Regions from separate parts of the Homo sapiens genome. Here region 1 is linked to region 2. The links come from fine-mapping of genetic effects on gene expression. A gene starts in region 2. The other region holds a variant in brackets. All regions are shown on one strand. Distances are between the middles of the regions.

Region 1 (4,389 bases), 51 kb after region 2:
AGAAGCAATTAAAGCCACTTTCTTAAAATAGGAAAGTGTTAAACATACAGAAAAGATCAAAGAATAGTACAGTGAACACGGAGATATACTCCTGCTGCCTATAGTTAACGATAAATATTTTGCCAAATTTGCTTCACTTGTTTGTGGGTTTTGTTTGTTTTTGTTTTTTACTGAATCATTTCAGTGTGAATGGGCATCATTTCACTTCACATCTGAGGCTTTGCAGGTTGTGTCTCCTAAAAATAAGAATATTAGAGTCTGGGGTTAACTGTTGTAGGTTAAGAAGTCAACTTCTTCTTAAGTGATGCCACAGCTGATCCTTTTTCACAGCTGTTTCACCTGTGGTTTCTTTTAATTTCAGCAAAAAGAGGAAAAGAGAGTAAAGGAGGGGGGTGAGTGTTTTATACAACCTTTGACCTTTATAAGGCCCAATGGAAAGATGAAGGTAGTTTTAGAAATACAGTGGAGGCTCATAGTCCAAAGCAACAAAGCTGGTGGCGTCATAACGCTGGGGTTGGGAAAGGATTTGTGGGCAAAGCTGGACTTTCTGGCTTGGAAAAGTCAATGATGTTCCTAAACCTTTGGTTTATATTCTAGTAACAACAGTATTTTCCTCATTTATGCATTGAGGGTGATGATGCCTATGTTTTGGGGTTATTGTAAAGATCACACATATAAGCCATTAATACCTTGCTTGTCACATGGTAAGTCCTACAGAAATGGTAGCTCCTGATGCTGTTCTTTCCTTTACTCTCCCTTGTTGGCCACAGGTCTGGAATTATGTGTCAGCTATTTTCTGGAGAAAGGGGATTTCCGAGGGATGGGGGAGGACAGATAGCAGCAGAAGCTGTCTAAATGGCTTCATCTCGATAGTCCCTTCTCTGCTTTGCCTCTCGCTTTATCAGAAAGTGTCCTGGCATGAAGCAGAGCAGGCCTGACAGCCATCCTGCCACCAGCTTATAGTGTGGCTTTTTGTTATACCACTGACTCAGCTGACCCTAGAGTGTGGTCAAGTCCATACTTACTAATGGTGAGTAGAAGCCTTACACGTAGATAAAGACATGGACATGATGTAGACTGTGGGCCATCAACTCCAAGCCCCATTTTAAAAATTACATGTAAAACCAATGTGGGATTTAAATTTGTGTTTGGTTTTTTTAAATCTCCAGTTACAGATGACTAATAGTGCTCTTCCTTCTCTGTTATTAAAATTATAAAGTCATGGATGGGTATTTCTCTCTTCTGATTCAGTGAAGTATCCAGTAAGTCAGGCTTGTTCAGATGTAAGAGTTTATGTTGTGGCCATGGCCTAGAACCTTAGGGGACAGCACTTCTTGGTGGCCTATGTCAGCGCTTTGGCCAGAATGCACATCAGTCCAGTGTGGTCCCATTTTAACTCTCACAGTAATTTTTTTTTTTCTTAATTGGGTCCTTTACCAAGGAAAGCTGTGGAGGCTGGCCTTTGCAAACTATACCAGTGCATATCTCTAATGAGGTCACCTGATGACCAGCAGCTTGGTCAGCCTAACTTGAAATAGGCCTGATAACACATATTTCCCACAAGTTGGGAAGAAAAATTAGAGTAATTTACATAGAACCTAATATATATTCTTTGTCTTTTCTAAAGTTACTTAAATTGTGTTAAATGGAATAATTCTGATTAAATATAAAGTTTATCGTAATGACAAATACACCTTAGAAAACTCACACAGATGGAAATTCTTGGGAAATGCAGGTAAATGGGTAAAGCAGCAGTGGCACCTTGTCTTGCTTTCTCTCCCCTTCATCTTCTAATCTTCACTTTTGTATGCCACTGCCTGCAGCCACTGCTGGACACCCTCTCACTTCTGCTGGTCAGGTGACTCAAAGGCAATTTGGGATTATGCTAAAATTCTCTAGGTGTCCCATGATGATAGGTGGATAGCACAGTGTTAGATTGTTAAGCATAACTCAGAGTGCCTCCCAGAACCTTTGATGAAATGGGTAACTCACTGCACCCCCTTTCCTTGGCAGGTGTTGTTAACCTTCGACTGCATAGACAAGCAAATTTTTTTTTTCCTTAAGAATCTAAGGACTGACTAACATAGTTCTTCTATATAGTGAGCTCATATAGTGCATTCGAAACATTAATTTTATACATAGTTTTAGTGAAACAAGTATTTTGGCTAGTCTCCTGCCAGACACATAGAAAGTATTGTGTGAGCGTGTGTTGAGTTGTGTTAAAGGGGGCAGGTCTGTGTTGTGG[T/C]TGCATACGGATTGTACTGCTGGGAAGGCCGCCACACCTTTCCTGTTGATGTGTCTACTTAACAGTCATTGGGAAAGTAGAATTGAGCTGTCAAATCTTAAAATTTTGTGGAGAGATGCTTGTTTTTGGACTGATTTTCTTTTCTGGTCAGCTAGTAAACTAGTAGCAACTCTATGAGGTTAATGCAGCCAGAAAGAAGCCTTTGAACACAGTGCCGTCAAAAAAAATGTTTGTCTTCTCTTTCCGTTTGCTGGTGAGTGGAAACCTCACTTGGTTAAACCTACTCAGTGTTTGTGCCTTTGTATCTCCAGGTCTCCGGGCTTTGGGTTGTCACTGGTTGCTGAGACCACCAGTGGCACCTTCCTCAGTGCTGAACTGGCCTCCAACCCCCAGGGCCAGGGAGCAGCAGTACTTCCAGAGGACCTTGGCAGGAACTGTGCCCGGCTGCTGCTGGAGGAAATCTACAGGGTATGTCCACAGCTTCCTCTGATAGAGGAGTGACCAGGAAGCAGTTTGTTTTCTCATTCTCATCTCTTGGCAGCTTTCGTCCTCTTCCAAGGGCTCAAGCCAAGGAGATAATCTGTTCCTGTGCATTAAGCAGTTCAGCCTTAACTAGTTTAATTGATTAGCTCAACCAGTCAGTGAGTAGAGATCTAGCCCCACTGGGTTGAGACACAGGGCAGGTAAGTTTTAACAGTGAGCCAAGGAAAGAACTGGAACAGTCATAAAGGAAAGGGAAGGTTAAAAAAAGGAAGCAGGTAAGGTAAGGTGGTGGCTGACACACTGCCCTAGCCAAAGAGAGTACCATCCCGGCACCCCCCGATTGCTGCCATGTGGGAAGATGGACTCATTCTTTTTAGATCTTTTAAGAGAAGCTAGAAATCTGGATTTGTATGTGACAGTTGATTCATATATAAAACAATAGCAACAGGCTAGATTTTGCAATGCATTCTAGAGCACAGAATCTCAGTTAACAGATAAGTATTAGAAAAGAAGAAAAAAATTTAAAAAAGCACAGAATAACTAGGGAAGGCAGGCCTGTGGCACAGCATAGCAGAAGCTTTGGAAAACCTAAGAACATGGAACAGAGAAGGGGTAAACTGATGTTGAAGACAGACTCAACCAGTTGTCATTTTGCTTCTGCAGGTCTGCTGGTGGGACACAGCTGAGACCAATTTGCCCTCTCAGTTGCCACAGTCTTTCTCTGTTGATCCTTTCATTGCAACGGGCACATATGCATGCACACACTTTTACTGTTTCCTCAAAATAGGTGAGGTGACCTAAAGTAAGGGAGAAATTTGGAAAGATGATGGCAGAAAGAATAAGATACAGTTTCCTAAAAGATATATTCCCTGAGATCCCCTATACTTGGTTAGAAGAGGGTCACAAATCTGGGTCCAAGATTTCTGTTAGTCTGCACCGTCTTTTGCCTTGGTCCCACATCAAGAAGGTGAAACCTTTTCTCTGACATGCAGAGTCCAGGAAAGGCTCTGAAGGATGGTCGTTTCTCTGCTCTGTGTGTTAGGTCCCAGATTCTTGAACTGAGCATCAGCAAGAACTATACTCTAGTTGATTTGCTGTTGTATGGTGTATAATGTTTGTAAATCATCTCTCTTCTTCCCCTAAGGAGCTGAAGAGACTTCTTTCTTTGTATTGTTCTGTGTATTTCTTCTCAGTTGTCAGGCATCTTTCTGGTCTCCAAGTAAGTTTTCTCGTTTATGGTAGCAAAAATCACATCTGAGCCAAGTTAAATAAAATCAGTAAAACAGGTAAAGTGGCAATTTAGTTTTTCTTTTAATTCTTCCTTTTGCCACTGGTTCAGTTTATTAATCAGGGTGGTAGGGTAAAGCCTGACTAGCCATAGGTATTGATCCTCAGACCAGCCTCACAGTGGAAAACAGCTTATATTTATAGTCTACTCCCTTGATCCAAGTCAGTGTTCTTGAAAATGTCTCATTGGTCCAAGATGGAACACATGAGAATGAGCTGTTTCAGAATTAATTAAATTTCCAGGTCCTAAATGGCTCTATTTAATGACCATCTAATTAAAAATGGAAGACAGTGGACCTATAGTTTTATTTTCAGGAGAGTAGCTCCAGCCCCTCTACTCGGCATTCACCTGGGAAATAGTAGAAGAAGGAGAT
Region 2 (4,389 bases):
AACTCATGGAAATAGAGAGTAGAAGGATGGTTACTAGAGACTGGAAAACATAGAGGGGGTGGGGATGTTGGGGGGCAGGTGGGGATAATAAATGTGTACAAAAATTAGAAAGAATAAGATCTACTATTTGATAGCACAACAAGGTGTCTGTAGTCAACAATAATTTAATTTTCATTTAAAAATAACTAAAACAGTATAATTGTTTTGTTTGTATAATAACACAAAGAATAAAATGCATGAGGGGATGAGTACCCTATCCTTCAGGATGTGATTATCACACATTGCATGCCTGTATCAAAACTTCTCCCGTACCTCATATATACATGTACCATCTACCTACAAAAATTAAAAATTAAAAAAATTATATGGAACCACAAAAGACCCAGAATAGCCAAACCTGTCCTAAGCAAAAAGAACAAAACTGGAGGAATCACATTACCTGACTTCAAATTATACTACAGAGCTAGAGTAAACAAAATGGCATGGTACTGGCATAAAAACAGACACATAGATCAGTAGAACAGAGCGGAGAACGCAGAGATAAATCCACACAGCTACGGTAAACTCATTTTCGACAAAGTTGCCAAGAACATACTCTGGGGAAAGGACAGTCTCTTCAATAAATGATGCTGAGAAAATTGGATATCCATATGCAAAAGAGTGAAACTAGATCTCTATCTCTTGCCATTTACAAAAATCAAAGAAAAATGGATTAAAGGCTGGGAGTGGTGGCTCACACTTGTGAGGCCAAGGTGGGCCAATCGCTTGAGGTTAGAAGTTTGAGACCAGCCTGGGTAACATGGCAAAAACCCATGTCTATACAAAATACAAAAATTAGCTGAGCATGGTGGTGCACACCTGTAGTTCCAGCTAATGGGGAGGCTGAGGTTGGAGGATTACTAGAACTCGGGAAGTTGAGGCTGCAGTGAGTCATGAGCATGCCACTCCACTCCACTTTATAACACACTGTTGTCTACATAAGGCTAGCTACATCCCTTAATCTTAAACTCCCACCGCTTTCAGACACTATCATACCCCGCCCCCCTTCCCCCCGCGAACCCCCGTGCATTCTGGGACTCATGGTTTGGTGAGTGTTGTCCAGGAATGGCTACAAACCCACATTACTATGATATCGGACTTCTACTTGTGTAGTCATTTGTTAGTTAACTGTACATTTTGGAAGGTTTTTGAGTAGAGAAGTGAAATAATCCAACGTTTGGGAAGATTTTCTTGTGCAGGATTGGAGGAGGACGGGAAAGAGGGAAAAAGCATTGCGCGCGTGTGTGTGTGTGAAGTTATTACAACTATCTATCTTGAAGCATGCGAGGTAGGAGGGCCTGAATTGCCATGAAACGCAATGACGATAAACGAAGGGACCCGTGAGAAAGGGGCAAAGAGGTGTCTCAATAAAATAAGCAACGGCCTGCTGTGGGAGGATTCGGGTCTCAGTATAGGCTGCCACTGTCAGCTTTGCAATATTCCTCGAGCCTTTATCCATGAGTAGGACAGGATGGCTCTACCTTGCAGGGTTACAGCATGGAGCTGCGGGACTGCGCCGGCAGTGCGCTGAGCGGCATCCCTGCGATAGGGTGAGTGCACCAACCCTTGTTGTCTCTCTTAGTAAGAAAGAGGAGGGGTAGATAATAGCATCTTCACCCCAGTAGTTGCCGTAAGTAGTAATGCTAAGAATCCGGCACGTCGTAGGCATCAATCTCAGTCCGCCATCTCCCCTTGCTACCACGCCAGGAGGTACACAGAGGAGACTGCCCCGACTGGCAACTCCCGCGCCGGGGTTCCCTGGCCATCCTCCCGCGTTCCCTCCAGCCGCGCGCTGTTGCCAGGGCCCGGGCACCGCCCAGCTCCACTACGGACCAATGGCAGCGCGGCTTGGGCACCGCCCAGCTTCAGCGGAAGCCAATGGAGGCGCGGCGCGGGCACCGCCCTGATCCGGCGCGGGCCAATAGCGGCGTGGCCCGAAGCGGGGGCCGCCCCGGTCGGGCGGGGAGGCGGGGAGGTGGCCACTGGCTCCGCCCCGCTCCCCTCTGACCCGGTGTCTAGTCTCTCCGTCTTCCTGTTCCAAACCACGTGGACGCGTCTGGGCTGCTGGAGGCAGCCCGAGCCGCCGCCGTCGGTGTCGCCGCCACCACCACCATCGGAGTCACGAGTCCCGCGTCTGTCCGAAGTCGCCGCTCTCGGGCTGCTCACGTCTCTTCGGAGAGCGCGCACATGGCGACTCAGGCGCACTCCCTCAGCTACGCAGGGTGCAACTTCTTGCGCCAACGTCTGGTCCTGTCTACCCTGAGCGGGCGCCCCGTCAAAATCCGAAAGATTCGGGCCAGAGACGACAACCCGGGCCTCCGAGGTAACTTGGTGTGGGCGGCGCGCGGCGTGGGCGCGGGGGCTGAGGGGAGACCGAGCTGATGCCGTGGGGGCCCGCGCGGTGTTGGTTGGGCGGCTCGGCGTCCGGCGAGCGCGTCGGGGAGGGCAGGTGGCGCGTCGCCTCCAAAGCCGGAGGGGCAGGCACAGTGGGGGAGGCGGGGTCGGGGCCCGAGGGGAGCGCTCAGCTGCAAGCTGCGCTCGGCGTCTCCGGGGCGCTGGTAGTAAACAGCTGCACGTTTTCCAGCTTTACGTGTAGCAACAAATCCCTGGCGTCGCCCCTTCGCGTCCCTTCGGCCCCTCTTGCCCTCGCCATAAACCTCTCAAAGGAGAAAAACAGTTTGTTGGACCGAAATATGGTGAATGAGCCGGGGGAGAGACATTGGGAGAGAAAAGTACCTTGGGTTGGTTCTCTGCCCTGTCTCAAAGCAGTTCTCAGAAGCAGCTGCCCCCTTGGACACCGGCTGTTCCTGTCGCCATGATTTCTCGGCTGCCCTCACACTTGTCCTTGGGTGTGGATAAAGAAATTTTTAAAATTCTGTGTTTGTTTTCAGCCGTGACTGTGATTGATGTGCGCAGGACAGGAGCTTTGAGATAGACTTTTAACAGTCATGGGCCTAATTGCCTTGACTTTAGAAAAGGGGTCGGTGACAATCGCTAAACTGCAGGCTTCCAAGCTCACTTCTTGCTCTGCAATGGTAGGTTAAAAAGAAATAGGCCCATTTAAACCCACATCTCATTAAATGGCGCCGGTTTTCAACTGGCCTTGGTTTACACCTGGCCCCCTGGCATGAGATACATGCATTTAAAAGCTTCTGACTGGTGGTTATCCCAAGTTGGGCGAGTCAGTAGTCAGGTGAAAAAGGAAAAAACCTGTCTGTAAATTGAAAAAGAGTGTTTGTGGTTGGTCCTGGAAGCTTCCTGAGCGGCGCTGATGTGTTTCATTTTGCACTGGCTCTTGTTTTATCTGTCTGAATGCATTTTTTGGATAGTTAGATCTCTGCCTCTCTTGGGTGGTGATTGGCTGCACATAAAGGGCAGAAGATGCCATGCTATTGACGGAGATAGGTTAGGAAGGAAAGAAGCAGAATATCCCAGGTACAGTGGTGAGAAACCTAGTGATGGTAGGAAAAACTTGTGTTGGTGGTTCCTGTCCTCTCTCTACTGCTCAAAAACACTGAGAAAGTTAGGGAGAGACCACAAATGGTTTATGCCACGACTTTTCCGTCAACAAGTGTTCCACTTAGTTTGACCCTTGGGCAAAGTGTTTGCTTGATTGCTGTGTGGCATTCTCAGCCAGCTCTCCATCCACTTTACCCTCAGGTTAGCTCAGAGAACTTGCCACTAGCTGGATATGGTAAGAAGATGGACTTCTACTTTGTATAAAAGTAGGCATAACTTTTTTTTTTTTTTCCAGAGAAATGGAAGTATAGCCTGGAAACCTGGGTTCTCTAAAATGAATCTAGTTCTATTTAGAGTTTTTCTATTGACAGGTGGCCTCCAATTTAATATTTAATGTTCCAAAGTATGCTTCTCCTTCTCCCCCTCCACTGTATGTGAGCATCTCTTCAAAGCATCTCACACATATGAGCTCCCGTTTCTTCCAAGAACAGGGCTTGGCCACTTGGCACTTTCTTGAAAGGGTGTCAGACGCTGATACCTGAGGGAGGTAGAACTGCTTGGCAGGTGTGCTGGTATTTTATGGGGAACATTACTGTAGAGCATTATTTGCCTTACCCCGTTCATATACCAGGGGAAGAAAGAGACTCCTAGTTATTTGTACATCCTTGCGCTGGCTTCAGGGCCTCAGAAACCTTGTAGATGTTTGTCTGCTTAATTTCTTTCTTTTTTTTTGAGACAGAGTCTTACTCTGTCTCCCAGGCTGGAGTGCCGTGGTGCGATCTCGGCTCACTGCAACCTCCGCCTCCTGGGTTCCTGCAATTCTCCTGCCTCAGCCTCCCTCGTAGCTGGGATTACAGGTGCCTGCCACCATGCCCAGCTAATTTTTAGTAG

The links. PIP is the estimated chance that this variant, and not a neighbour inherited with it, causes the effect.
Region 1: its variant is the best candidate, but not a certain one, in a credible set for the expression of RCL1 in whole blood (TOPMed, PIP 0.52).

Annotation. Positions count from the first base shown.
Region 1 is chr9:4,841,969-4,846,357 of GRCh38, forward strand. It overlaps RCL1 (RNA terminal phosphate cyclase like 1), which reads left to right. Exons shown (of 9, transcript NM_005772.5): 7 at 2,557-2,713. Among named protein-coding and RNA genes, the nearest start is that of MIR101-2, 6.1 kb to the right of the region's middle. RefSeq lists a silencer at 341-635. The variant T/C (reference allele first, on the strand shown) is at 2,246.
Region 2 is chr9:4,790,866-4,795,254 of GRCh38, forward strand. It overlaps RCL1 (RNA terminal phosphate cyclase like 1), which reads left to right and starts at 2,079. Exons shown (of 9, transcript NM_005772.5): 1 at 2,079-2,362. The coding sequence starts at 2,227. RefSeq lists enhancers at 1,336-1,385, 2,206-2,255, 2,330-2,829 and a silencer at 1,766-2,125.